7 linked regions of the Homo sapiens genome follow. The protein of the gene in region 6 purifies or fractionates together with the protein of the main gene of each other region. This does not show direct contact. Each region holds a gene or a part of one and is shown on either strand. Other genes may lie near its edges. The genes, in order: CSRP1, EZHIP, FBXO45, KRT85, PPP6C, MYO10 and NIPSNAP1.

What was found.
Region 1: the proteins of MYO10 (region 6) and CSRP1 purify together in Homo sapiens (affinity purification with mass spectrometry, with the first as the bait; one large-scale study listed by BioGRID). This does not show direct contact.
Region 2: the proteins of MYO10 (region 6) and EZHIP purify together in Homo sapiens (affinity purification with mass spectrometry, with the first as the bait; one large-scale study listed by BioGRID). This does not show direct contact.
Region 3: the proteins of MYO10 (region 6) and FBXO45 purify together in Homo sapiens (affinity purification with mass spectrometry, with the first as the bait; one large-scale study listed by BioGRID). This does not show direct contact.
Region 4: the proteins of MYO10 (region 6) and KRT85 purify together in Homo sapiens (affinity purification with mass spectrometry, with the first as the bait; one large-scale study listed by BioGRID). This does not show direct contact.
Region 5: the proteins of MYO10 (region 6) and PPP6C purify together in Homo sapiens (affinity purification with mass spectrometry, with the first as the bait; one large-scale study listed by BioGRID). This does not show direct contact.
Region 7: the proteins of MYO10 (region 6) and NIPSNAP1 purify together in Homo sapiens (affinity purification with mass spectrometry, with the first as the bait; one large-scale study listed by BioGRID). This does not show direct contact.

Annotation. Positions count from the first base shown.
Region 1 is NC_000001.11:201,482,804-201,486,962, forward strand, and holds the end of CSRP1 (cysteine and glycine-rich protein 1), read right to left. Parts: intron 2,574-4,159; coding exon 2,480-2,573; intron 1,987-2,479; coding exon 1,910-1,986; 3' UTR 727-1,909; downstream 1-726. UniProt on the Homo sapiens protein: Could play a role in neuronal development.
Region 2 is NC_000023.11:51,405,294-51,409,679, reverse strand, and holds EZHIP (EZH inhibitory protein), read right to left. Parts: upstream 2,733-4,386; 5' UTR 2,664-2,732; coding exon 1,152-2,663; 3' UTR 837-1,151; downstream 1-836. UniProt on the Homo sapiens protein: Inhibits PRC2/EED-EZH1 and PRC2/EED-EZH2 complex function by inhibiting EZH1/EZH2 methyltransferase activity, thereby causing down-regulation of histone H3 trimethylation on 'Lys-27' (H3K27me3).
Region 3 is NC_000003.12:196,585,259-196,589,817, forward strand, and holds the end of FBXO45 (F-box/SPRY domain-containing protein 1), read left to right. Parts: 3' UTR 1-3,801; downstream 3,802-4,559. UniProt on the Homo sapiens protein: Component of E3 ubiquitin ligase complex consisting of FBXO45, MYCBP2 and SKP1. Functions in substrate recognition but also plays an important role in assembly of the complex.
Region 4 is NC_000012.12:52,361,335-52,364,481, forward strand, and holds part of KRT85 (keratin, type II cuticular Hb5), read right to left. Parts: exon of another isoform or gene 3,087-3,147; coding exon of another isoform or gene 3,033-3,086; coding exon 2,972-3,032; intron 2,830-2,971; coding exon 2,734-2,829; intron 2,077-2,733; coding exon 1,912-2,076; intron 1,646-1,911; coding exon 1,520-1,645; intron 1,138-1,519; coding exon 917-1,137; intron 165-916; coding exon 133-164; intron 1-132.
Region 5 is NC_000009.12:125,148,630-125,152,153, forward strand, and holds part of PPP6C (serine/threonine-protein phosphatase 6 catalytic subunit), read right to left. Parts: intron 1,293-3,524; coding exon 1,044-1,292; 3' UTR 1-1,043.
Region 6 is NC_000005.10:16,698,485-16,702,643, forward strand, and holds part of MYO10 (unconventional myosin-X), read right to left. Parts: intron 4,105-4,159; coding exon 4,059-4,104; intron 3,355-4,058; coding exon 2,479-3,354; intron 1,090-2,478; coding exon 966-1,089; intron 1-965. UniProt on the Homo sapiens protein: Myosins are actin-based motor molecules with ATPase activity. Unconventional myosins serve in intracellular movements. MYO10 binds to actin filaments and actin bundles and functions as a plus end-directed motor.
Region 7 is NC_000022.11:29,577,932-29,582,531, forward strand, and holds the start of NIPSNAP1 (protein NipSnap homolog 1), read right to left. Parts: upstream 3,183-4,600; 5' UTR 3,152-3,182; coding exon 3,054-3,151; intron 1-3,053.

The sequences.
Region 1 (4,159 bases), on a different chromosome or scaffold from region 6:
AAAAAAAATGTGGCCTTCCACGGACTTGCTGTGGGGGCCCTAACAGCACAGCAGGCTGAGCCAGGCCCCTCCACCACACCCCTCCTAGGTAGAAGTGAGCTTTCTAGATTTGACGTGAAAGTTCCTCTGGTTGAGTTTCCCTCTTAGGCTGGGGCTTTCCGAGCTGGGAGAAGTTCTGAGCACAGTTTTGGGGCCTAGCTGAGCCCCTCCAAGTCCAAAGTCCATGCAATTCCCAGGCCCAGATTTGGGGGTGGAGACCAGACAGGACAAGCCAGTGGTGTTTGGCTGGTCGGGTCACTTCAGACAGTGTGGTTCAGTTGGCATTGATACTGAGAAGTAATTGGTCCTTAGAAAAAGCAGGAACGAATCCACTTTGATTCATTTCCACCAGGCTGCCTGCTTTTTTTTTGAGACAGAGTTTCACATTTGTTGCCTAGGCTGGAGTACAATGGTGTGATCTCAGCTCACTGCAACCTCTGCCTCCCGGGTTCAAGCGATTCTCCTGCCTCAGCCTCCCAAGTAGCTGGGATTACAGGCACCCACCACCATGCCTGGCTCATTTTTTGTATTTTTAGTTGAGTCAGAATTTCACCATGTTAGCCAGGCTGGTCTCAAACTCCTGACCTCAGGTGATCCGCCTGCCTCGGCCTCCCAAAGCCCCTGCTAATTTGATTGCTCCCATTGAGTTCCCTCCCAGCTCCACAGACACAGGATTGGACACCAGAGTTCTGGTCTAAACAGCTTTATTGACCAGATGAGAAATCAGCTTGGGTACAGCCCATGCCTGCAGCCCTTTCAGTGGGTGGCTCCAGATAGTGTTGTCCTTTCAGTTGCTGGGAGCGGTGAGGCCCAGCCCTTTCCCCTTCCTCCCACCACTATTCCTAACCTGGGGCCTGGCAGGGGTGGAGTGATGTGATCTAAGGGTCCCTGGAGAAGGGTGGAGTGGAAGAGGCAGGGTCTTGGGTTAAAGGGAAGATTCTGAGGTCTCAGGGCAAAGGGAAAGGTGTTTGGATGAAGACTGAGGCAGTGCCTACCTCCCTCCACATCTGAGGATCAAGCAGGTGTGGCAAGAACAGAGCCCTGGCCTGGGCTCTGCTGGCCGCAGCCTCAGGAGCCAGGGTTAAGGCCAGAGATAAATGAAGATTTGAGCCATTGATAAATGCCAATATATGTTTCAGGTATTTCATTAGGATCCTCCCATCAAGCAGGGAACTAGATGTTTGAGAAGATCAAACAACATCCTGACTTTGGGGTCCTTAAGACCTGGGTTATTCTCCTCCCAGTCCTAGTGGGAGGCTATCCATTCCACAAAGACTCAAAGGCAAGAGGCCTGGAGAAGCAGGGGCTCCTAGGACCCTGCCTGCATGCCTCTCTGCCTCCAATAGTGACTCCCTAAGCTGGGACTCCTCAGGCTTACTCTGAGGGACACCAGGAAGCTCAACCTCTTTCCCACAGAGGAGAATCTCTGAGATCCAAAAAACCCAGCCTTCCCCCCTCCTCATCTTGGTCTTGCTTCCCTCTCCCTCCAGCCTGTTGCTGCTGCTCCTCTGGGTGCCAAGATGTGTCCTCAGGTGTCTTGGTCAGCTGATGATGGACACGCAGCACAGGAGGCTAAGAACAGAGCTCTGTGGGGCGAGGTGTGGGGAGAGGGGCCTGCTCTCACCTAGACCCAAAACACTGAGGTCTCCTACTGGTGATGGTGTCAGATCCCAGGCCTGGGGAGCCCTTTAGTGGGGTGGGACCTCAGGCAGACCCCCAAACCAAAGGGAGCCAGATGCCCAAGTTCAAGTCATTAGTGATATGTGGCAGGGCTGACAGAGAAATAATCCTGGAGGTCTCCAAAGCTGCTGGGAATGGAATGGCGATGAAAAGCGCAGGAGTGGGCAGGGTGTGGTGGGTGATGGTGGCCTCACTCAGAGTGGACCAAGGCCCCAGCTCCTTGCCCAAAACCAAAGCCCTTGGGCCCGAAGTTTTTAGCATAACATCCTGCAGAGAGAGGAGAGAGATAAGGGCATGTTCTTCCTCCACCCCCAGCCACACCACCCACCCTCCTGCTGAAGATCCCCCACTCCTAGTGCCCAGCCAGACTGCTAGGGAAGGAAGGTCCACTGGTACCCCCTCACCTCCACAGCACCCCAATCTCAATAGTAAAATAGCGAAGAGGCTCTTGGTTGTACCCTGTACCCATTGCCCCTGCCACCAAAATTATAGAAGCATCATCTGCTGTAAGAACATTGGACTGGGAGTTAGGAAGCCAGGGTCTAGCCCTATGCCTGCCTCAATTTGCCAGATGATGCTGGCCAAGTTGCTTTCCCCCTCTGGTCTTGTTTCCTCATCTGTACAATGAAGGAATCATACTAGATGTTCAGATCTTGGATCCCAAGGCCAGGAATTAGTTTACATTCAGCAAAGGCAAAACTACTTAGCCCCCCTACCCCCTTGGGCCTCCTGACCCTCAATTAGAAGTGAAAACACCCACCTTTGCAGTAAATCTCGCCATCCTTGTCTGCCAGGGTGGTTGACTCAAGGCCTTTGCCACACTTGGCACATCGAAAGCAGGCCTTATGCCAGGACTAGGCAGGGAAGGAAATAGTTAATGGCTGCCACCAGTGATGAGGGTACCCTCCACCCCAGGCCCACTCCCTTTGACATAACCATGGTATAAGGGCTCAAGCCACTTCTGAAGTCTACTCAGCTGGTGCTGCTGGGAGGACATGGCCTATGGTGCAAGGCAGTAGAGGGAGAAGGCCAGGGACCACACGCCACCTCGCACCATCTTCCATGCTATGTTGCAATGGCCTGATGATTAGGGTCACCAGCTATACCACAAAAGGCAGGTGAGGGGGTGGGTTTAACACCAAAGTAGCTGTTACCCCACTGGCTGGGCCAGATGAGCCTTCTCCAGACCCATCTTGCCAGTAGATCAGTGGTGTGAGCCAGGGCTTTGCACTCCTCCTGGTACTGTCACTTAGTACTTGAACAGCCCTCACCAGAAAGACCTCTCTGCCCTGTGTTGCCTTGGGGCCTCTCATAGAGACCCAAAGGGTCTTCTGTGGCCCCTGGAGAAACTACTCCTTAGGACTTTCCCTGCTGAGTTTAATGCATTTCATAGACTTATTCTCCTTCCAAAGTGATACTAGACAACATTGACTCTGGCTTCCTCTGTGCCAGGCCCTGTGCCAGGCACTTTACACTGGTGAAGTCAGTTAGTGTTCACAGCTACCCAGTGAGGGACATACTGCCACCCTCCCCTCCAATAGCTGATAGCCTTTGGGCAAAGGAGGCACCTAATTCTAGAACTTCAGAGGCTGGGCTGGTCCAGGAGAATCCAATTACAAATACCTTCTCTGTGGCCAGGCATCATATGTTTAAATATCTAGTCCTCACATGCATTCTGTAACACAGGGCAAACAGCTGTCCCAGAAAAAAAGTGAGGCCCGAGTTTGTACACAGTGATGGGACGTTGCACAGACAGACTTCTCCGCAGCCAGTTCCCATCAACAGCTGGGCAGGCTAAGAGGCTGATGTGTAGACAGCTCTGCTTAACCCAGGAAAAGCAAGAGGCAGGCAGCAGTCAGATAAGACAAAACAAGGCCTTTTAAGGGCAAAGACACTCCCAGTGCCCAGGCTGGTGGATGAGAAAGGAAATTCATCCCCTCAGATTTCCTGGTTGCCTAACCTTGCACATTGGCTTCTCCTCCAGAGAGCTGAAATGGGGGGACCTGGGTCTAGGTCAGTGCTGGTGCAACCTCAATAGTCACCCAGCCTTTGCTGCCTCCTCTGTAAAGCAGGGGCTGCTACCCCAAGCTCTCTAGGCTGGAGAAAAACTGAATCACACCTAGACCAACACCTCTCCTCATATTTCCTAGCCACCTCCCTGCCAAAATAAGCTGAATCCCTTTGCTCATTCATAAGCACCCAAAAGTACTCCCAGCTCAACATTTCTTGAGCGAGGCAATAGAAAGGTGGGGCTTCTCCCTACCTTTTCCACTTGAATGCAAAATTCTCTTATCCTACTCCTTAGTACAGCCCTAACTTTACCTTATAGCCTGCCTAAGTAATGGAAATAGTGATTCTTAGCTATTCTTAATAATTTTCTATTCTCATAATGAGATAGAACAAAAAACCCAACTTAATAATAATATTAATGTCTCCTGTT
Region 2 (4,386 bases), on a different chromosome or scaffold from region 6:
TAGTCTCTCCTATTATGTTTCTACAACTTAAATTTTCAAAAAACAGCGGAGTTTAATTTAAAAAAATAGTTATATGGTCAATGTGGAACTTGTAGATTATAGAAGACCATATCACCAGTTATTAAAAAAAAGATATACACCTTGTTCACAGCATGGTGTATGCCCATGTAGTTCTCTCCAAATGTCTACACACACACACACACCCTCACATATCTGCTCAAACTCAGTTACAATTATTTTTGTTACAGTAACATTATCGATTAACACGTATTTCCACTGAATGTCTGACCATTTTCCCATCAATTATTAGCCCCAAATCACCCTCCCACATTCTCCCCACCCCCAAAGACCTCAGGAGCCCGTTCCCCACACATAAACATTTTTTTATCCTTTAGAATCTAAGATATTCCCCTCTCAAGCTTCTGACTCCTGCTGTTCCCCATTTCCTGACTCTGGATCTTCCTCCCAGCTTCCCTACTCCCATCTGGGTTATCGTCTCCCTACCTCTCATCCCAAACTTCATCATTCCCTGCTCCTTTCCTGACCCTGGATGTCTCCATCACCCCTCCTTTTCTCCAGCCACCTGGGTTAGACCCTGGCCCCTTTTCTTGCCCAAGTTGCAAATCACCTCTGCTAAGAGGGTATATAGACCTAAGTGGGAACTTCCTGCACAGAACTCCATTTCAGCCAGTGGGAATAAATTATTGCTAGGACAGTATTTTATTTCTTCTCTCGTCCAAAGAGTCAGCTAGTATGTTAACAACTTTCTTTAACCCTCCAAATATGATATAGGATTAACGATTTTTCGAACCGCAATAAAAAAACACACCTCTACATTTTGTTTAAACAAAACAATTTATTTTACTAATTAAAACATTTCATAACAGAAAAGCAACTTGGAAAACAGAAATCTCAGCTCAAGGGCAAAGGCAAACTCTTGAGGAAGAAGGTGGCCCAGAATCAAAGGCCAACAGCAGGTTAAGTGCTAGGTGGTGGAGTCATGGGGAGGAGAGGCTTCTAAACTACTCAGGATGTTGGTTAACGGCTGGAACTTTGGGAGACCTCGCAGCTAACTACAGGGCAGGCAGCCCATTCACAAAGTGGGTAAATGTTGATTCCTTCTGTGGGTCTTAGAGGATGCTTATAGAGGGTCACGGCTCAGGCGGTGTTGCGGGGTGAGCTGTGCTCTCTATTTCTGCCTGCTCTTCTGGAGGGACAGGGCTCAGAGCATAAAACTCAGGCATCAAAGCATACCTAAGGCTTTCAGGGCTAGGAGTGGAGATAGATCTCAGGCCCAAAAACTCAGGGGAAGGGGATGAGGGGCTTAGGCCAGGAGACCTACTCGGGGAGGAGGAGTTGGAAGCATAGGAGGAGGAGGAGCTCTCATCCCACTGCTGAGGGATGGGAAGGAAGAACCTCCCAGGGGGTGAGGGTGAGGAGGCACGCATACGGACTGCATGCCAAACAGGCGGGGAAGCACGGCTTGGGACCTCAGGATCAGGAGAGCCTGATCTGCTCTGAAAGGCAAGCCTTTCTGAGCCAGTCCCACAGGAAGGATTCTCATCAGCTGACCCAGACAGAGAGCGGCGGCTGAGAAGGGCTGATCTTTGCTGGGTGGAACGGCTCCGGAGGCCAGTGCCTGGCGTCGTGCTGGTGCTGCGATGACCGGCGTCTGACCTTGCTGTGCGGACGCGAAGGGCAGGGCCTGGCGCAGAATCGCGGCCTCGGCGGGCAGAGCCTGGCGCAGAATCGCGGCCTCGGGGGGCAGAGACTGGCGCAGAATCGCGGCCTCGGCGGGCAGGGCCTGGCGCAGAATCGCAGCCTCGGCGGGCAGGGCCTGGCACAGATGCACGGCCTCGGCGGGCAGGGCCTGGCGCAGATTCAGGGCTTAGACGAGCAGGGTCTAGATGAGTGGCGCGGTGTGGAAAAGCAGGGCCTGGCTGGGCGGTGCAGCCTCGGATGACAGGGCCTGGACCAGATGCACGTCTGCGGAGAGCAGAAGCTACCAGGGTGATGCGGCTTCGGGTAGCAGGCCTTGCCTCAGATGCGTGGCTTAGGAGTGCAGGGCCTGGCTGGGTTGCCTGACTCGACGTAGAAGCCCCGGAACAGGGATAGCTGCTGGGCCGGAACCCTGGAGAAGATGGCGGCAAAGGCTCAGGAAACAGACGCCGCCCTGGAGGCTTCTGAGCCGGGGCAGCCTGGTTGCGGCAGGGCTGCTTCCTACGACGGCTGTTCCCGGGGCTCTTGGTCTGGGCCAGGTGCTCGTCGGCGTGGCCAGTGGCCTTCTGGGGCCCCACAGCGGCCTGGCTGCCCCCCTCGGGCACCACACACCCAAAAACTTCGTGAGGACTGCGGCAGTCCTGGCGGTCAGAATGCCTCTCCGTCAGCACAGCAGCTATGATTGGCAGCCCCGAGGCCTCATCGGTGATGAAAATGGCGGCGGAGGTGGCGGCTGCAGCGGAAGAACCGGCTGTGCTGCTGCTTAGGGCGGCGCCGCCCGAGGGAGATGCTTGGCTGGAGACTGTGGTGACGGAAGCAGCAGGATCTTGATTCCCGGTCCCGCAGGCATCCCCGGAGGCAAGGGCGGTTTCGTTGTTCAGCCCTCCCTGCCCCTCGTCCTGCTGGTGCTTCTGCTCCTTCTCCATGTCTGACTGAGTGGCCATAACGCCAGGTTCTCCCCCAGAGAGCAAGAGCGCAGCTGCTACTTCTGCCGGAGGAGAGCGCGAACTGGTAGAGCAAGAAGGTGGGTGGAGCCCAGCCAGTCCTCGACTCTGATTGGCGAGCTGGACGTCAGATGACTCCTCTCTCTTCCCGGGAGCCGTCCAATCCGGAGCCGTGCAACCCAGAGCCAGGCGCCTATCGTCAACCCGGAGTGTGTGCTCCAGCCCTCTGGGGTCGACCCTGGTTGCTGGGTCAGTAGTGTGAATCTCCTCTCCTCACACGGGGCCCCTAAGACACGTGTTTGTGTGTGTCCGTCCCTAAGACACGTGTGTGTGTATATGTGTGTGTGTGTGTGTGTTCCACATGAACGATTTGAGTCACCCCAAATCGTGGCTGAGGCTTAAGTGGTCATTTGAAAGAAATGCCACACTGGCCGGCAGGTTATATCTCCTGGCCAGGTGTCCCTCCTCGCACCCGGTCAGGACAATGAAACCAGGCATGACGCCCGAAGGGACCACCCTGGAACTCCTCCAGGCATCTAGATGACCCCATGTGGGGTCTGGTGGGTTTTAGGGTTATACAGAGGCCTGAAGGCGAGAAAAGGGAAGGGGCCCACACCGTCTTGCCTCCGGATGTTCAGCACTGCTGCTTCCCCCAGGTCCCACACACCTCAGGTCCCACACACCAGAGGGGGATTTAGAACTGTGCCTTTTCCCCCAAGGCACAGTTAGGGATTGCCTAAGGTTAAGGGTGACACCGTCCTTAAATATTTTATGGGCTGCGTAGTAATCCGCTGATGAACATATATTAATTTATTTAGTGTGGTCTCTAGCTCCTAATTAATATAAATATGCTGTAATGTATAGACTTGAAGTTTAATATTTGGCCACTCATTTTTAGTCATTATTTATTACAAAAGGTGTCATGTTCAGTACTCAAAACAGAAAAGCAAATGTAAGAAAACTACACCTAAGTCCTCAGGCACCCATGGGAAAGTGCTGGAAATTTTTACTTAGACTTTGGTAGAAAGGCCCTATTCATACATATTTCATAGTTTTTTAAATTTTTTATTTTATGAAATGGAATAGTTTCTCCATAGATACTGCATTGTAACCTGCTTTGGGTTCCAGAAAGCACATTTTCTATGTCAGTAAACAAATTTCTACGAGGCCACTTTAAATTACAAAATACTCCATTTATAAAAGAAGTTTACATTTTCAAACATTCCCATATTGGCCACCGTTTATGCTGTTTCCAACATTTTACATCATTGTGAGACACATCCTTCTCATTAAAAATTGTTCATATCCTTAAATGTGTCATTGTGGATAAATTCCCAGAAGAGAAAATTCTTGGTACAAGTCTATGAACATTTGTAATTATTTTAATTACTTAATTAATTTATTTATTTATTTTTGAGGTGGGGTCTGGCTCTGTCACCCAGGCTCGAGTGCAGTGGCATGATCTCGGCCCACTGCAACTTCTGCCTCCCGGGTTCAAGCAATTCTCCTGCCTCAGCCTCCCGAATAGCTGGGACTACAGGCGCGTGCCACCCATGGCCGGCTAATTTTTTGTATTTTTAGTAGAGGCAGGGTTTCACCATGTCGGCCAGGCTGGTCTCAAACTCCTGACCTCAGGCGATCTGCCCGCCTCGGCCTCCCAAAGTGCTGGGATTACAGGCGTGAGCCACTGCGCCCAGCCACATTTGTAATTCTTTGATTAAAA
Region 3 (4,559 bases), on a different chromosome or scaffold from region 6:
GTCTCATAACACAGAACATTGCCATTTGCTCTTGTAGGCCTCAAATATGAAAGCTATTAGTCATAGAGCCTAGGAAAAAAAGAATTGATTAATGGTCCTTTTATTTTGTAACCTTATAAATGCTGTAGATATTATCAAAAAAATTTTAATTTCATATTGTTTACATCATGCAACTAATCTAAGCCTCAAACTCGTTATTGGGGCTATAAAGAAAACGTTTACTTACCCAGCTGAAACAGGTTAAGAATATTCTTAATCTCATTATAGATAATTGCCCCCATGGGACTTGAAATACAACACCTTGTGCTGAAAACTTCAGGTTGGCAATATTTGAAGGTTTCGTTGTAGAAGAGTTTAACATTAACTCCTATTTTGACTTACAAATCTTGTTTCTCATCACTAAAATGCTTTTGAATTAATAATCCAACCCACATGAGCTGAGAGTTTTTCTTTTGTTAGAAAAGAAACAGACATCTTTCTGTATGAAAGTATAAATTGTATGGTTTTAGATACATAAGAATTGACAAAAGCGAGCGAAATCTTTGTACTTCTGAGTTCTTGCTGTATGTATGTTTTGTTTTAAATCTGATTAGGGACACCCAGCAGCTGGCCGGGATTCTTGGATTGCTCCTTGGGAGTTAAGATTGTCAATACTCCTGTGAAGCAAGGGATTTCAGCCATAGAACAAAGATTTATTGTTGCCACCTGAAAAGTTTACAAGTATTTATTGTGTATTTGATACATTGCTTGAAAAGATGAAATCTGTTAAAGATTCTTTTCGATGTCCAGGTTAAGAAGAAACCTCCTTGTATTGAGTGAAATTATATGTTAAATGTATTAGAGAATGTAGGTGGTATAGAAATTGATTTTTCTTGGTGTAGAACAACTCAGTTCGGCAAAGTTTAAAATTTGATTAAACAAGAGAAGTGGTTCAGGTTGAAGATGGACTTGTTAGGAAGTGATCAAGTCCTTTAAGTACTTGTTTCTTTTTCAGGTTGTGATGTGGCCATTCCGAATTTTGTTGAGAGTTTGGTTTATAATTGTCTCTTTTGTCTTGTTAGTAAACATTCATTTGCAACAGTTTTGAAGGTGCTGAGTGGAAAACCGAAACACATGGTTATTGCGTATTGGACCTAGAATGAAATAATTGCCTCAATATTTAACAACAAGCCATTCTTATCTCAAAGATTTAAATTCCCGAATGTCCCATTCGCAAATCATATGCAATTGAAGTGAGCAGCATGAGCATCTGGGTCATGAGGGCCTTCATTTACGTAAATTTGTCACTAAAACCCAGTAGTAGCTCTACAAAATCTTAAACTGCTGCAGTGCTCAAGGAGATGGAATATCTTTGTCATTGGTGCTGAGGAGAGCATTTCGGTAGAAGACAGTTGCGCCTGAAGATTGAGTGTAAATCATTCAAACCAGTGGTTCTCAGTGTTGGCTGTATACACTTTGTAGTCACTTTGGAATGTTGGAAGACACATCGATGCTTGGGTTCCGTATGCCAAGATTCTGATGTTGGTCTGGAATATGAGCTGGTCATAAGGATTTTTAAAAACTTTCTGGTCATTTCAATATGCTGCCAAGGTTGAGAACCACTGTTGTAAAATTCACCTTGAGTTTTCTCATCTGCAAAATAGAAAAAAAAAAATCCTTGCTCCCTCCCTTCACTACCTCACAAGGATATTGAGGGTAAAGGAGAAAATAATGGGAAAGTGCTTGTGCCGTGGATGAAAAGTGCTATTAAAAGTCAAAGGAGTGTTCTGTTTCAATTCATAGTATGATCAGGGAAAGTGTAACTGAGTATACTTTGTTGACTTGGGAAACCTGGAGCACTTTCTTTGGTTGGTTAACGAAGCATGCAGATGTGGAAGCAGACGTTACTATTATCCCTACTATGGTCTTCTGTCATACTGAGACAGGCTGTTTTAATTACCTGGTTTTACATAGGAAAGAAGAAATATTAAGGCTTAAAGTTTGTAATGATCAATGGCTCATAATTCATTAAATCTTTTCATACAAGGAATTTGTGGTTAATGTCATTTCATAGTTGCCATTATTTTCTCATTATTTGACTTAAATGTTAAGCCATTTATTTCATCTCCCTCATTCACATAAAGTGTAGATATGGATTCAATAAGACACCAAAAGAAAGTAAGATTTACCCAGTTAATATTTAAAATCATTGTTCAGTGATTAGGCATTTTCTGCCTTTTAGAATTATTTGACTGGAGAAAGAGTTTCAAAAATAGCAGAGCCCTAAACCATAAAGAAACTACTACTGTATAATGAACTTTTGTTTGTTTTTGGAGACAGGGTTTCACTCTACTGCCTAGGCAGGTCTTGAACTCCTGGGCTCAAGCAGTCTTCCTGCCTCAGCCTCCCAAGTAGCTGGGATTACAGGTGTATGCCACTATACCCAGCTTTAACTTTTAAATCCCCAAACTATGTAGATTGTCATATTAATATTAATTTTTTTTTGTTATTTTGAAGAAGTGAGTAATTTGAAGAGATAGAAACTTAGGGAGTGGTGTGTGTGTTTCTTTTTTGGAGACAGAGTCACGCAGGCTGGAGTGCACGATCTTGACTCACTGCAACCTTTGCCACCCAGGTTCAAGCAATTCTCGTGCCTCAGCCTCCCGAGTAGCATGTGCCACCACACCTGGCTAATTTTTTTCTTTTTTCTTTTAGACGGAGTCTTGCTCTGTTGCCCAGGCTGGAGTGCGGTGGTGTGATCTCAGTTCACTGCAACCTTTGCCTCCCGGGTTCAAGTGATTCTCCTGCCTCAGTCTCCCGAGTAGCTGGGATTACAGGCACCTGCCACCATGCCTGGCTAATTTTTGTATTTTTAATAGAGACGGGGTTTCACCATGTTGGCCAGGCTGGTCTCGAACTCCTGACCTTGTGATCCACCCACCTCAGCCTCCCAAAGTGCTGGGATTACAGGCATGAGCCACTGTTCCCGGGCCTAATCTTTGTATTTTTAGTAGAGGGGGTTTATGCCATGTTGGCCAGGCTGGTCTTGAACTCCTGGCCAACACCACCCACCTCGCCTCCCAAAGTGCTGGGGTTACAGGCGCGAGCCACCGTGCCAGGCCAGAAATTTAAGGAGTTTTAAAGGTTAGCATTGAAAAGATTACTTTCCAGAAATTGAGACCACCACAGTTCCACAATTGGGACTGTGGTAGATAATCAGGACCACTTGGAAGCCTTTATTAGGAACAGCCCACACCCAGCCCAAATGCTGTCCTCAAAAACATTCCTCAGTTTCTCTAGCTGAATGTAATCTCTCCTTGAAATTTCCCTAGTTTTATATATCTATAGTTGACTCATGCTGTATTTATTTATACCTTGTTTAAAATTATTTATTGATTATTTATTGGTGTCATATCGCCCCTAAACTGGGACAGGATCTCTAACGGACTCATCTTTGTGCCACAACATGTAAGCCCAATAGGCAGGTGCTCACATATTTGCTGAAGGAACAGAGAAAGAACTGCGGAGAAAGACAAAAGCTCCTCTGAAGTTTTAGACTATAGAAGCAAAAATTATAGTAGCAAAAGATGAATGAGAAATTCTGTTCTAGTCCCAGTGAAGCAGGAAGGAAAGGGTTGCAAACTTGAGGCTGGTAAGGAAGAAATAATTACTGTGAATGCATTTAGCCACTCCCCTCTACTCAAAAATACTGGTAAACTCTGATTTTTATATTTGTTTAGAATTTAAATTAGAATTCTGTATCTTTATTTTTTGGAATTCTGTTGTTTTGCCTTAGTTTCTTAATAAAAAGTTAAACATTAACCACCTGTGATTGCTTACATTTAAAGACATTTTTTACACATTGGTTAGAAAGAAAAATTGGGGTGCCTTAATAGCCAGAGGTGGTGATGGAATTTACCTATAAATTCCATGGCTTTAATAATAGAATCCACATTCCCCATGTTTAGAATGGAAAGTGGACAGAGAACAGTAATTCACTAGGGTCTTATTTCCCAATTGCCTCTACCGCCCCCCACCCCACCCTCCTGCTGACATTTGTTTGATAATGCAGTTGTTTGCCAAGAATTATGAGAGACAGGCATGCTATTCCTGAACTGGCTGAATACACGGCTCCTGTGATCCAAAAGCTTAAAAGAGAATCAGTTGATGATGTTGCTAAACAAGTTGGCTGATATGTTAAAGTTCAAAGCATTTTAATTTTTTTTTTTTTTTTTTTTTTTTTTTTTTTTTTTTTTTTTTTTTTGAGACAAAGTCTTGCTCTGTCACCCAGGCTGGAGAGCAGTTGATGTGCTCTCGGCTCATTGCAACCCCTGCCTCAGGTGATCCGTGTGCCTCGGCCTCCCAAAGTGCTGGGATTACAGGCATGAGCCACCGTGCCCAGCCCAAAGCATTTAAATTTTATAAAAGAAAAATAGGTGTAAATGTTCTGTATTTGCCGCTTTGTTTAGTGGAAAGAGACGCCAGAGACAGCTTTACCAGTCTGTTGTCCTGATTTCTTTTTTGGATCCTCCCTCGAACTGTTTGCTTCTTATTTAATGTGTTCACTAAAATACTGTTGA
Region 4 (3,147 bases), on a different chromosome or scaffold from region 6:
GGCCCCCACTGAGGAGCCAGGGGAGGGTGAAACAGTTGGGGGAACACTCGAGGCTCCATGGGTTAGGCCAATGAGTTCAGCTTTTCTATCAAAAAAGCCATTTTTCCAGGAGAATTTCAGGCAGATACTCACAGACATTCACAGAGCCCACACCTTCACACAGCCTATGGAGAAAGAAAACTCTGTTAGTTCCAGACACTGAGTTGGATTCCTTGAGACTGATGGTTGCTTGGGGACAGAGAGGGTCATCCTGTGTACAGAGTCTACCCCTGAAAGGCAAGAAGGGCTCCCTCAAATCTGCATTAAATGCTTTCTTTCTTTGATGGTTTTAACCATGAAGACAAGGCTTTCTGATTTTCAGCAGCAGTGGGTAAGATTATGAACAGTGCCCCTAGTTTGAGTGATGGTGGCCAGCCTGGATGGTGCCAATCAAGCTCACAGGAAGGAGAGTTGAATCAGATACACCAGGGTGTGAAGGGGCTTTGTGGTTGATGAAGAGCTAAATGCATATAGAAGTGCATCATCATCATAACACACAGGCCTGTGTGGCAGCAGCTTCAGTAGGAAGCTATTCAACAAGGACGGATTTGGGAGGCATGAGACTTGGGTGCAGGTCCCAGCTCTTCTGCTTATTAACTGCGTAGCCATGATAAAGGCACTGAATTCTGAGCCTGCTTCTTTATCTAAAGATAAAAAGATGGGAAAAACCATATCTATCTTATTGGATTGTGAGGATTATAAAATAAACACTTAGCACAGGTCTAGCACAGAAGCATTCAGTTATTATTATTATTATTATTGAAGCTATTGTATTAGCCATGGCCAGAGTTGTAGCTCACACTCAGCTCAAGGAAATTCACTCCTGGAGGACCACAGCCTCCACCTCTGAAACCCCACAAAGTCCTCTTAGCCCCACCTGTGTTCCTCGCCCTCCAGCAGGCGCCTGTAGGTGGCGATCTCGATGTCCAGGCCCAGCTTGGAGTTCATCACCTCCTGGTACTCCTTGAGCAGGCAGGCCATGTCCTGCTTGGCCTTCTGCAGGGCGCCCTCCAGCTCAGCCAGCTTGCAGCGGGCATCGCTGAGGGCCGCCTCACCCTGCTGCTCTGCCTCAGCCACAGCAGCCTCCAGCTTGGCACGCTATCAGGTGGAGATACAAGGGCCAGGATGAGAAAGAGAAGCCACAGCTTGGCTCACCCAAGCTGATGGAGCCAGGGCAGGGAGAGGAGGGTCCTGGAGAGAAGGTTGGCCCGTGGCCAGGTAGTTAATGGGGCTGTGAATATGAGGGAGGAGATGGGTGGGCTTTTCATCATCTCTCCTTGATGGCGGTCACAGGGTGGCCAAGGAAGGGGCTGGATCCTCCTTTGGAAGTCAGTGACATGGTCTGATTGCTGTGAAATATGATAGAGCCCCTCCCTTCCCTCTGGGTCCCTGCTTCCTCATGGGCACACTGTGAAGCCTGATTAGGGCCAGGTGCTGCAGCCTGCCTGTGCTGCGTATTTGAATCCTCCACAGACCCCACCTGGCACTTGGCATTCTCAATCTCGGCCGTCAGCCTCTGGATCATGCGGTTCAGCTCGTTGATCTCCTCCTTGGTGCGGCGCAGGGTCTCCCCATGCCTGATCACCGTGGCCTTCATCTCCTCACACTGGAGGAAGTAGAGATGCTCATGAGGCTCAGGGTGGGGCCCCCCATCCATTCAGGACACCACAGATGACTATACAGGTTGTACGGTGCTCAGCCTGTGCAACCACACATGGCAGTCCTGCCCTGCCACTTCAACCTGAGAACTACTGGCTTTTCTCATACTGTCCTCATGGGTCAGAATCCCCAGGCAAGAGAAATCTTTTCTAATAGATGCCTAACTTCCCTCCCACTGCCATGCTTAGCAGGCAGGTGTCCTGTGCCACTCACCTTGCTACGGTACCAGGACTCAGCCTCGGCCCGGCTGCGGCTGGCAACATCGTCATACTGAGCCTTGATCTCAGCGATGATGCAGTCCATGTTCAGGTCTCGGCTGTTGTCCATCTTGACTATGACCGAGGTGTCTGAGATGTGGGCTTGGAGAACGCGGATCTCCTGTGGGGCCAACAGCCAGTGCATTTGCTTCTAGTGCCTGATCTGGGCCACGTGATCCACCCCAGGGGACAATGTCCACTTCCCAGACCGGGCACTGGTCATGAAGGTTACATGACTCCTGCTCCTACCACCTTCACTCATGCACAGGCTCCTTAAAAACAACAAAGCTGAAAGGGGCTGTAGAGGCCATCTGGGAACAGTGTCTGCCTTAAAAGTGGGAAAACTGAGGCCCAGAGGGTGAAAAAGATCTGGTCCAAAGTCACCCAGCAGGGGAGCTGGGGTTTGGAGGCTAGGATGAGTGATTAGTCAGTCCATTAATGAGGACCATGCCCTATGTGCGAAGCCATCCTGACCCCCACCACACATGCACACTCTCTTGCCCATCTGTAGACTGGCACTCACACAGGCAGCACACCAACATGCAGAGAGGTCACAGACACAGAGCAGCCCAAGAACATGTACACCCCATGCTCCTCTCACACATGAACGTGGACATGGCCTCTGTATTGTGGGCCCCAGCACGTATGTGCAAGCTCTTTTCACACTTACATTGCACATTGGCAAACATAGGCACACACATGCACCCTTGCCTCACTGCTCCCCTGTCTCCAAAACACCCCTCCACCTGCCCTGGCTGGGTGGCAGTTGCCCCCTTACCTCTTCATAGAGGCGCCTCAGGAAGCTAGACTCCTCCACCAGGGCCTCCACATTGGCCTCCAGGTCTGATTTCCGCAGGTAGGCACAGTCCACGTCCTGGCCGTGGGACAAAGAGGAGGGGACATGCATGTGAGAGGAGACCAAAGAAAGGTGCCTTTGGTCAGCATGGTGACCCTGCCCCTCGCTGGAGTTTGCACTGATGGGCCCCCTCCTCCTTGCCCCATGACCAGCCCCTCACCTTCTTTAGAACGACAAACTCATTCTCTGCTGTGGCTCTCAGGGCCACCTCCTCTTCATACCTGGGTGTGGGAGAGAGAAGGTCTGGAGCTGAGAAACTGGACCTTGAATACCATCCCAACTCCTGGGCAAGTTCTTCCGGGGATTGAAAAGGGATTAATCCCCTCCAGATGTTGT
Region 5 (3,524 bases), on a different chromosome or scaffold from region 6:
AAGTGTTACAGCAAGAGAAGAATGATTCCTATTGAAAAGCACATAGATTTTAGTTAATAATACTCATGATAGATTGTAAACTGGATTGATCACATTCTACTCAACTGGTATCAAATTAACACATCAGCATTACAAGTATTAAATGTTTTTCTATTACTATAGAGGATATAAACCAAAACATTAATATGGCAGTTATGTTCTTTAGGCACAGTTTAGTGATTTTTTTCAAAAATAAATACTATTGAATTTCAATTGAAGTTTTAAACTCAATAACCAAAGGGTCAAGAACTCTGATTAGGAAAAAAGAAAAGATAACTTTACGCTAACAATGTAAGCTGTTTAAAATTTCTAACACTTAACCTATCTGAGTTTTATTTAAGATTACTTTATTAAAAAATACAAGGAATCTGAAAAAAGATCAATACAATTATCTTAAAGTACAAAGTCATAAGCTGTAGCAGTTTTTAACTAAAATTTAAAAACACAACAAGGAGGGCAGCCCTTTAGACCAATTTATTTTATATCCATTTAAAATATCATCCAACAAAGGACAATGAAGTTTACATCTGGGACAGGTATACATAACTTGAGGCATTTGGAGTCCATCGTGCCCACTGAATAACAACTTTGCTGCTGAAATTTCTTAAAACTTACCAAACTAAAACAAAAGGCTGAATGATACAAAAGGAGGAGTATTTAGGTGTAATCTGTCAATTGGCTTTTAAAAAAAGGAAACACATCCTGTTTCCCAGACCAGTAAATAAGCAAGAGCTACATGCAGCAGTGTGAGTATTAAGACATTTCTCAAGTCTTCTCAAATGAGTCCAGGGTGGGGATGGGATGGGGGAAAATTGATAGAAAAACTTTGCTATAGACACCACAACAAACAATAAATTTAGATAATTTAAAATTTAAAAAAAAAAAGGCAAGAGGCAGCATTTCAGCAGCAAAGTGCTCAATAAAAAGTATATTGTAGAGGGTAATACAAGAAAATTGGGGTAAGAAGAGGGCAGAAAAATGGGTCAGCAGGATGGGCGAAGGCCTCAAAGGAAATATGGCGTTGTCGTTCTGGGAGGAATAACACGTTCTGAATCTGGAACTGCCCGGAATAACTTTGGTTCTCTTGTATTTACATCTTTGAAGACCATGATCGAAGCAATATTTCCACAACGATAGCAGTAATTAGGAGCAGACCATACTGTCACCAGCTTCTCATCAAACATAAATTTATAGCCTTCGTGCACTAGTTGATGTGCTCTGCAGATGAGTTTTAAGTTGTTGATATGAACAAACTGCAATTTAGAAAGGCACTGTAAGTACTTAGCACTTAAAAAACAATCGGCCTACATAATCATTTAAATAAAATACCAAATCCTATTACTACTAAAGGCATCAAGATTATAGAACGCACTCTATAATTATCTCCAACAATTTAATAAGTTTAGGCAAACAGCAATTTTGGCCTGAGTCAAGTGCACAACTATGGAAACTGTACAGCTACATAAACAGTTAGAAATTTCTGGAAGAAAAAGCATTCAATAGGTACTATGAAACAAAATTTTGTGTTTTCTGATTTAATAATAAAGATATTGCTATCAGTATCTACCATTTACTGAAGGTTTAGTATATGTAGATGTTGCAATAATTCTGAAAGAGATTATTCTTTTGCAACTTAAGGAAACAAAAGCTCAGACTAGATAAATAACTTATCTAAATTAAGATACACTGATGCAGGATCAGAATCTAGTTTTTTGACTTCATTATGATGCTGGAGCACTTCCCAATATAAGGGGTGTGTGTGTGTGTGTGTGTGTGTTTTAATTGAAAACAGTTGAAAGTTCAAAGTGTGTGTGTGTGTTTTAACTGAAAACAGTTGAAAGTTCAAAGTACTGCCTATCTTGAAGATGGCGGAGTAGCATCGCAAAGAGATTAGTATTGAGTCTCTGGGCCGACTTTGGTTGCAGTCTCTGCAGCAGCAGTGATCACTTAGTGAAGAGTGCTTAGGGTAGTTGGCCAGGATCCTGAATATCAAAATCTTCAGCGGCAGCTCCCACCAGGGCTTATCTCAGAAAACTGCCGATCGCCTGGGCCTGGAGCTCGGCAAGGCAGTGATTGAGAAATTCAGCAACTAGGAGACCTGTGTGGAAATTGGCAAAAGTGTACGTGGAAAGGATGTCTACATCATTCAGAGTGGTTGTGGCAAAATCAATGACAATTTAATGGTGCCTTTGATCATGACTAATACCTGCAAGACTGCTTCAGCGAGCCAGCTTACTGCAGTCATCCCATGCTTCCCTTATGCCCAGCAGGATAATAAAGAGTCAGGTGACAATCTCAGCCAAGCTTGTTGCAAACATGCTATCTGTGGCAGGCGCAGATCATATTATCACCATGGACCTACATGCTTCTCAAATTCAGGGCTTTTTTGATAACCCAGTGGACTATCTGTATGCAGAGCCAGGTGTCCTGAAGTGGATAAGGGAGAATATCTCTGAGCAGAAGAACTGCACTATTGTTTCATCTGATGCTGGTGGAGCTAAGAGAGTGACCTCCATTGCAGACAGGCTGAATGTGGACTTTGCCTTGATTCACAAAGAAGGCCAATGAAGTCGACCGCATGGTGCTTGTGGGAGATGTGAAGGATCTGGTGGCCATCCTTGCGGATGACATGGTTGACACTTGTGGCACAATCTGCCATGCAGCTGACAAACTTCTCTCAGCTGGAGTCACCAAAGTTTATGCTATCTTGACTCACAGAATCTTCTCTGGTCCAGCTATTTCTCACATCAACAACGCATGCTTTAAAGCAGTAGTAGTCACCAATAACATACCCCAGGAGGACAAGATGAAGCACCATTCCAAAATACAGGTGATCAACATCTCTATGAGCCTTGCAGAAGCCATCAGGAAAATTCACAATGAAGAATCCGTTTCTTACCTATTCAGTCATGTCCCTTTATAATACAGTAACTTCTGAGGCTTTTTAAGAATAAAATCCACCCCACCCCTTGTTTTCCCTTGGTATTTGATGACGAATTCAGCAGAAGACCCAGCTTGCTCCAGTGTAGCTTTCTATATCCCACATCAGGTATATCTGAGCTTATCCGAAATGAAGAAAGAAGGATTGAGATTAACTGCTGGGACTTCCTATCTGCATTGTCTCATTCTGGCTTCCTTGATGATTCTGTGAGCCTTGCAGCTTTAACTATAGCTCAGCTGTTACAAGATTTCAGACTTTTGAGGATGTTGTGTGGGGGTGTTTGACTGTGACTGGAGAAGCTCAGACTACTCTGCATGTGAATGCTTCAGGGTTTTCTTTGTTGAGAACAACCAGCAGCAAAGCCAACCCATGTGTGAGCAGTTCTCCCCAAGGTCTATGCTAAATTATGGCAAGAGCCCTGGGCAACCCCAAACCTAGTCCCGGTGGCTGAGCACCCTGTAAGGCAGGAGTAGGCAGTTGGGCTTGAGCAGCCATGGGGTAGGGGGTGGGGGGTGGTTGAGGGGGGAGGCAGCACAGCGCAGCA
Region 6 (4,159 bases):
ACAATGCAAATGCTCATCATGAAGTAGGTATGGTGAGCAGTTCAAGCCAGCAGTGGGCCTCAGTGAGATCTTCACTTTCCCCCATGTCTAGCACATCCTTTTAGGCTCTCTAATATCCCTGGCAGGAGAGAACATGCAGTTTTTTTTTTTTTTTTTTGAGACAGCGTCTGGCTCTGTCGCCCAGGCTGGGGTGCAGTGGCGCGATCTCGGCTCACTGCAAGCTCCGCCTCCTGGGTTCACGCCATTCTCCTGCCTCAGCCTCTCAGGTAGCTGGCACTACAGGAGCCCGCCACCGCTCCCGGCTAATTTTTTGTATTTTTAGTAGAGACGGCGTTTCACTGTGTTAGCCAGGATGGTCTCGATCTCCTGACCTCATGATCCACCCGCCTCGGCCTCCCAAAGTGCTGGGATTACAGGCGTGAGCCACCACGCCCGGCCGAGAACATGCAGTTTATCATGAGAATGGGTCTCGACCAATTCCAGCAGCAGCAGCAACACACACATTGGTTTGTATGTCTGTATATATGAGAGAGAGCAATGAGACTGAGACAGAGAGGGAGACAGTGAAAGAGAAAGTGGGAGAGAGAGGGAGAGAAAATAGAAGGATGAAGAAAGAGCTAAGAAAGGAAAACGAGACAGGGAGAGACAGGGGAGAAGGACTGATACTGGAGGCAGTGGTTGCAAATGCTTCGTCCTGCCACTCTGCACCAAACCAGGGGAGTCACGACTGTGTTCATGCTGGTAGGACCACAGCACCCATGTCACACCAACATGACAAGGTGTCCCTTCATTCATCTAAGTGGCCCAACACTGAGGTAAGGGTAGGTAGAACGACTTTCCCAGTCCCCATCCATCAGCCCAGATACAATAACACCTCCGTTATTTCCCACCGCCATCCATCAGCCCGGATAAAATAACGCCTCGCTCTCCCCCTAACCCAGACTCCATGGCGGCTGCAGTCATACCTTTCATGTACAGAAAGCTGTGGAAATACGGCAGAGTGACACAGCTGTACACAGAGTCACGCCGGTATGAAAGCTCATCATCTGTATCAAACCTGGAATCAAAGTCCTCTTCACTATCTTCAAACTGGACCGAGAGAGAGAAGCCAACGGTGAGGGAAAAGGCCACAAAGCAAGCCACGAAGATACCCAGCATGTATCATCATTGAAAAAATACAAAAATACAGCTACTCAAGAGGCTGAGGCAGCAGAATCACTCGAACCCAGGAGGCAGTGACTGCACTGAGCAGAGATCGTGCCACTGCACTCCAGCCTGGGCAACAGAGCAAGCCTCAGTCTCAAAAAAAAAAAAAAAAAAAAAGGGAAAAGGAAAAAGAAAAAAAACAACTGACAAGCAATACGCCTGATTTACGGTAGCACACAAATAATTCGGAATTAAAAATACCAACTTTTAAGGTCAAATGGTCAGTTGAATTGATACATGAAAGACAAGATATACTTGAATCCAAAGGCTATCTGCCCTAAAACTAACAATGCTTTTTAAGGCTATAATTTTAATCAAACCATGCAAGAGTTCACCCCCTCTGAATTACTATATTAAATATATTTTCAAATCTTTGAAAGTCAAGAGAACATTCAATGCACGACCAAAGCGACAAAATAAAAGTAAACTACAGATAAATCCAGAAACTGGAAAAGAGTACATTTAAGCCCTGCAGCTTCTTCCTTTACAGCCACTATAAGAAATAACATCGTGTGGTTTGGATTGTGAAGTTAGTACAAGGAAAGTTTGCCAGTTCACCCCTGGCAAGTCTTGTTCCAGTTCAGGATGTGTCTTCATTTCCTAACGCAGCACGGCAAAGCTAAAAGTTCCATTCAAATTGTAAAAAAAGGGAAGGAAGAAATAAAATAAAATAAACAAAAGTTCCATTTAAAAAGCCAGTTTTAAGCCGGGCATGGTGGCTCACGCCTGTAATCCCAGCACTTTGGGGGTCCGAGGCAGGTGGATCACCTGAGGTCAGGAGTTCAAGACCAGCCTGGCCAACATGGTAAAACCCCATCTCTACTAAAAATACAAAAATTAGACCGGTGTGCTGGCGGGCATCTGTAATCCCAGCTATTCAGGAAGCTGAGGCAGCAGGATAGCTTGGACCCGAGAGGTGGGGACTGCAGTGAGGCAAAATCCTGCCAATGCACTCCAGCCTGGATGACAGAGAAGACTCCACCTCAAAAACAACAACAACAACAATAAATAAATAAATAGCCAGTTTTCTGAAGTCTTGGGCACAGCTCAGCTCTAGGCTTTGTGCTAAAACTGAAACAGGCACATCAAAGTTCTACTTATGAATGCAATTGGCTTATGGAATAAGCAAAAGGTTTAAGATGATCTCTAAGACCACGACTCTGCAATCTTTGCACAGATATCCTACGGGTATCTTCATTCAACTTGAGGATGCAACAGGGGTGGGTGTGACCGGCCACCCATTTCACTGGGACACGCCAGGCAGGTACTTACCGAGGACTGCGCCCCCTCAGAGCTGAACCGGTAGGCACCCGAGCTGTTGTAGGTCCCCACAGAGCAGCGGTAGTCGGGGGACCACTGGCTGCCGTAGGAGTTGGAGAAGGTCACGCTGCTGCCGGAAGTGATGGCACCGTCCTCATAGTCATCCTGGTCGTAGTCGTAGTCGCCGTCTGGGGAGGGCAAGTCCCCAGCGTTCTGGGGCATGCAGTAGGTGGACTCGCCGCTGGAGGAGTTGTGTAGGCTCCCGGAGTCCTGCACTGATGGGGCGAGCAGCACCGTGCTGTCCGCACTGGGGCTGGTGGGCACCACCGTGTCGTTCATGTATGGGTCCTCCTCTGAAGAGTCATCGCTGGTCCGGATGCCACTTGTTCGCTGGTCTGAGTGGCCGTGCTCGCTGGGGTTGGGGGAGTCCTTGAAGGCGTCGTCGTCGGCTTCGAAGCCCTCATCGACCTCCTCCTCTGGGTAGGGCTGGCTGAAGTTGAAGTTGGGCTTCTCCTCGCATGCGCTCTCAGCCAGCTCGCTGGAAAATTCGCTTCCCACCGACAGGGACCGCTCGATATTCCGGACACACTCGTCGATCTCGTCGAAATTGAGGGACTCGAGGAACTCCTGGGCCGCCCTGCACGCTTCCTCCTCCAGCCTGCGGAGCTCCTGGTCCCGCCGCTCCTGCAGCTTCTGCAGGGAAGCCTCGGTCAGCGACAGCTCCTGCTGCTCCTTCATGCGCTGCAGGTCCTCGATTTCTTTCTCCAGACGGAGGATCTCTTCCACCTGCTTATTTTCCTTCTGTTTCTCCAGTTCACGGGTCAGTTCAGCTTCCTTCTGGCTCTTCTGCAAGGCTTCGAGTTCTTGCTGCTTCCTCGTTTCTTCTTCCTGGACAGAAGCAGAAGGGAGATTTCAGAAGGCTTCAGTACAAAAGTCCAAGCATAGCTCCCGCTTTGCAACCAGGATGAAATATGGTCATTATGAGTTGGACTGTGTCCCCATAAAGTCTATAGGTTGAAGTCCTAACCCCAATACTGCAGAATGTGACTGCATTTGGAGATACAGCTTTTAAAGGGGAGACTAAGTTAAAATGAGTTCACTAGGGTGGGCCCCAATCCAAGATGACTGGTGTCCTTTTGGGAACAGGAGACTAGGTCACACAGAGAAAAAAGGCTGCGTGAGGACACACTGGACAGACGGCCACCTGCAAGCCAAGGGGAGGGGCCTCAGAAGACATCAAACTTAAGGATAACTTGATCTTGCAGTTCCGGCCTCCAGAGCTGGGAGAAAATCAGTTTCCACTGTTCAATCCACCAGTCTGTGGTATTTGGCTGTGGTGGGCCTAGCAAACTAACACGCTGGTTATACCGATTTAGAGAAATTATACTCTTGTGATGCACACTAAAACCTCAGCCATTCACTACGCTTTACCCAATTGTAATAGGTCAGAAATTGGATCATAAACACATCCTCTTAAATTGTTCTTCCTGTTATCTTTCTACTTTAATTCAGTTTTGAATCCTAGAGTCCAAGCATTAGAAGTGGGAAGGAAGTAGAAACACAAGAGGCTAAGTTGTCACTGCACTCATTACCTGCTGGGCGCGGAGCTCGGCTTCTCTTCGCTCTCTCTCTCTTTCTCTAAAAATAGTAAAGGAAAAGTGAAAATCAACAACAATAACCCTGGAACCACTTT
Region 7 (4,600 bases), on a different chromosome or scaffold from region 6:
TCTATCACCCAGGCTGGAGTGCACTGGTGCGATCTCAGCTCACTGCAACCTCCACCTCCCTGGTTTAAGCGATTCTCCTGCCTCAGCCTCCAGAGTAGCTGGGATTACAGGCGCACACACCATGCCCAGCTAATTTTTGTATTTTTAATAAAGACGGGGTTTCACCATGTTGGCCAGGCTGGTCTTGAATACCTGACCTCATGATCCGCCTGCCTGGGCCTCCCAAAGTGCTAGGATTACAGGTGGGAGTCACCAGGCCTGGCCTGGCTAATTTTTGTGTTTTTAGTAGAGATGGGGTTTCACCATGTTGGCCAAGCTGGTCTTGAACTCCTGGCCTCAGGTGATCCACCCGCCTCAGCCTCCTAAAGTGCTGGGATTACAGGCATGACCCACTGTGCCTGGCCAAATTTTTGTATTTTTTATAGAGACAGGATCTCGCCATGTTGCCCAGGCTGGTCTCAAACTCCTGGGTTCAAGCAATCCTCCCACCTTGGCCTACCGAAGTGTTGGGATTACAGGCGTGAGCAATGGTGCCTGGCCCAGGTCCATCTGATTTCAAAGCCCACACTCCATCCCCACCCCAGCAGCCTCATTGCCCCCAAACCTCACAGGCCAGAAGGGCTGCTGCTGGCCCTACTAGTGACTCTGGAGAGATATGGGGCAGCCTGAGGGGCAGCAGGACAGAGTGTTCTCAGGTATCCAATGTGGAATTAAGGTATAAGTAACTGCAAGACAGTCCTTGAGGGACTTGATAAACATTAATTCAAGTGGCTTCATAGCAATCCTGCCGAAAACACCAACATCCCCACTTTACAGAAAAGGAAACTGAGGCTGACGGAGGTTCAGCAACTCATCCAGGGTCACTGAGTGAGGGGCAGCAGGCTGACTCTGAGACCCATGCTCCTTTTACAGCCTCTGGGTGTTTGCCACACAAATGGTTTTACCACCAATCCATTCTGTCCCTTCCCCAATCTTGATATTTTTATCTGGAAAACAAAGGGCTCATAAAAGATGATCTTCCCAGAGCCCTTTGAGCCTCAACATTATGTGGGTCACATGCAGAAATTGCTTGAAACATAGGCTAGGGGTTAAGGAGCAACACTTACTGCATGTTCGTCAAGTGCTAGACACTTCACAACCACGGAATCTTTTTTTTTTGTAGACGGAGTCTCGCTCTGTCACCCGGGTTGGAGTGCAGTAGCGTGATCTCGGCTCACTGCAACCTCTGTCTCCCGGGTTCAATTGATTCTCCTGCCTCAGCTTCCTAGTAGCTGGGATTACAGGGGTGAGCCATCACACCCAGCTAATTGTATTTTTAGTAGAGACACGTTTTCACCAACATGGTGAAATTTTTGTACTTTTTTTTTTTTTTTTTTTTTTTTGAGACAGAGTCTCACTCTTGTCGCCCAGGCTGGAGTGCAGTGGCAGGATCTCGGCTCACTGCAAGCTCCGCCTCCTGGGTTCACGCCATTCTCCTGCCTCAGCCTCCTGAGTAGCTGGGACTACAGGCGCCTGCCACCGCGCCCAGCTAATTTTTTGTATTTTTAGTAGAGATGGGGTTTCACCGTGTTAGCCAGGATGGTCTCGATCTCCTGACCTCGTGATCCACCGCCTCGGCCTCCCAAAGTGCTGGGATTACAGGCGTGAGCCACCGCGCCCGGCCATTTTTGTACTTTTTATAGAGACAGGATCTCGCCGTGTTGCCAAGCTGGTCTTGAACTGCTGACCTCAAGTGATCTGCCTGCCTCGGCCTCCCAAAGTGCTGGGATTACAGGCATGAGCCACCATACCCGACCAACCACAGCATCTTTAATCCTCAACAACCCTATGAGATACATCCTGATTACTCCCATTTTACAGATGAGGAACCCGAGGCTTAAAGAGTCCTGAGGTCACCCCACCTACAAAGTCTGAGTTAGATCTGTTAGTGCCAGGCAAACTCTAGGCTTTTCCCACGGTGTCAGCTTTATCCCTAATTATTGGGCAGTCTAGGTGGGGCGCTTATGCCACTCCTCTTTCCCAGCTGTCCAAAAGCCCCACTGCTCTGTGCTGTAACATCTCATGGCAGGCACTATCAGAACTTTGCAGCTTCATTCCTGGGCTGCAGGGCAGGAGGGATGGTTGCTTCCTTTTCACAGGTTGGGGGAGGGGGAACAGGTGGCCTCACTTCTTTGGTAAATATTCCTTGACCATACACAGTCCTGAGCCCTCTGAGGGTGGGAGGCTGGGGAAACAGAGAAAAATGAGATCATGGTCTAGTGAGAGAGACAGACAAGCACCAAGTCATAACTGTGCAGGGTCATATATGCAGAGATGGGGGAAGTACAGGGCTGTGGGGACCAAGGAGTGAGGGGCTGCCCAGGGCCAGTCAGGGAGGCCAAGCCCTAGCTCAGCCCAGAGCAGGGCCCAAACAAAAGCCCAGGCTGAGAGCACATGGCCCAGCCAGACTCCCACTCCCAGGAGGCCACCAGTTGGGTGCAAAGTGCATGGCGCATTGGCAGGCCTGGGTCCCAGACCTGGTGCTGCCACGGCACAGCAGGGAGGGTGACCTTGGACAACTCCCATTCCCTCTCAGGTCCGTTTCCCCACCTGTACAGTTCGAGGTGGAGGAACAAAGGGTCTGTGCAGCCATGGCCCCTGGGGATCCCCCACTGCTCCCCTGCCATCATCTCTTTCCCACAGAACTTCCCGACGGAGGAGCTGACTACCAGAAGCCCCCAGTGGGTGTTAAATCACAAGCTACGCCTGGGAATGGGCCACTCCTCCTGTCTTCTGCCCTCTCCCACTCTCCAGGGCCCAGTACCTGCCCTTCTCACCATCTTTCATCAGGTCCCCATCACAGCCCGGTCCCAACCAGGACAAAGACCCTACCCATCCCTTTCTCACCTCCCCCATTCTTTGCCCAGACCCCTCCCTAGGCCTTGATCCTGCCCCGCCTCTAACCCCCAGATTCCAAGCGAGGAGTCTCAGCCCCTCCCCCACGACCCAGTCCCTGGCCCCCGCGCCTGCACCCCACCCCGCGCGCGTCTATCCCTGCCTGGCCGGGCTCTCACCGCGCCGCAGCTGCAGACGCAACGTCCCCAGCGCGAGGCCCCGGGCCCCCCAGCAGCCGCCGCGCCGTCACAGAGATGCTGCACAGCCGCGGAGCCATGTTGGAGCCGCAAAGGTTGCAGGAAGGCCCCGCCCCCAAGCCCTGGTGGCGGAGGCGGGGCGCGAATAAACTCCACCCCTCCGGCTCGCCCGCCCCCTCACTCACCCGGTCAGGTGGGCGTTTCCTGTGGGCGTCTCCAACTCCGCAGGTGCTGGACGGAAGTCAGGGTTCTAATCCTCTGCGCGCTCTGCGACCTTGGCAAGCCCTTTGCCCACTCTGGGCCTCAGGATCCACCTCGGTAAAATGGGAGCGTGGAACAATAATACCAAGGGTTCTTTTTTTTTTTTTTTTTTTTTTTGAGACGGAGTCTCGCTCTGTCGCCCAGGCTGGAGCGCAGTGGCGCGATCTCGGCCCACTGCAAGCTCCGCCTCCTGGGTTCACGCCATTCTCCTGCCTCAGCCTCCCGAGTAGCTGGAACTACAGGCGTCTGCCACCACGCCCAGCTAATTTTTTGTATTTTTAGTAGAAACGGGGTTTCACCGTGTTAGCCAGGATGGTCTCGATCTCCTGACCTCGTGATCTGCCTGCCTCGTGCTCCCAAAGTGCTGGGATTACAGGCGTGAGCCACCATGCCCAGCCTACCAAGGGTTCTTAACAAGGCTGTCCGGGATGTGCAGCAGAGGGTCAGTGTAACCACCCCATGGGTTCATTTTGCCCGTTTCCCAGACAGCGGATTTATCAAGACAGAGGAATTGCAATAAGAGTTTAATTCATGCAGAGCCGGCTGAATGGGAGACCGGAGTTTTATTATTACTCAAATCAGTCTCCCTGAAAATTCGGAGACTGGGTTTTATTAAGGATAATTTGGTGGGTAGGGGCCAGAGAGTGGAGAGTGCTGATTGGTCAGGTCGGAGATGCAATCATAGGGAGTGGAAGCCGTCCTCTTGTGCTGAGTGGATCTCTGGGTGGGGGCCACAAAACCGGATGATCCGGTTTCTTAATCTGTGTATCGCCAGCGGATCCATTGAGTGCAGGATCGGAAAAATATCTTGAGCACCAATCTTAGGTTTTACAGTAGTGATGTTATCCCTAGGAGCAACTGGGGAGGTTTAGAATCTGTGGCCACTACCTGCATGACTCCTAAACCGTAATTTCTAATCTCGTGGCTAATTTGTTAGTCTTACAAAAGCAGTCTGGTCCCCAGGCAAGAAAGGGGTTTATTTTGGGAGAGGGCTGTTATCTTTGTTTCAAAGTTGAACTATAAATTTGCTGCCGGGCATGGTGGCTCATGCCTGTAATCCCAGCATTTTGGGAGGCAAAGGTGGATCAGAAGTTTAGGTCAAGAGTTCAAGACCAGCCTGGCCAACAGGGTGAAACCCCGTCTCTACTAAAAATACAAAAAAATTAGCCAGGCATGGTGGCGGGCACCTGTAATCCCAGTTACTCGGGAGGCTGAGGCAGGAGAATCTCTTGAACCCTGGAGGCAGAGGTTGCAGTGAGCCGAGATCG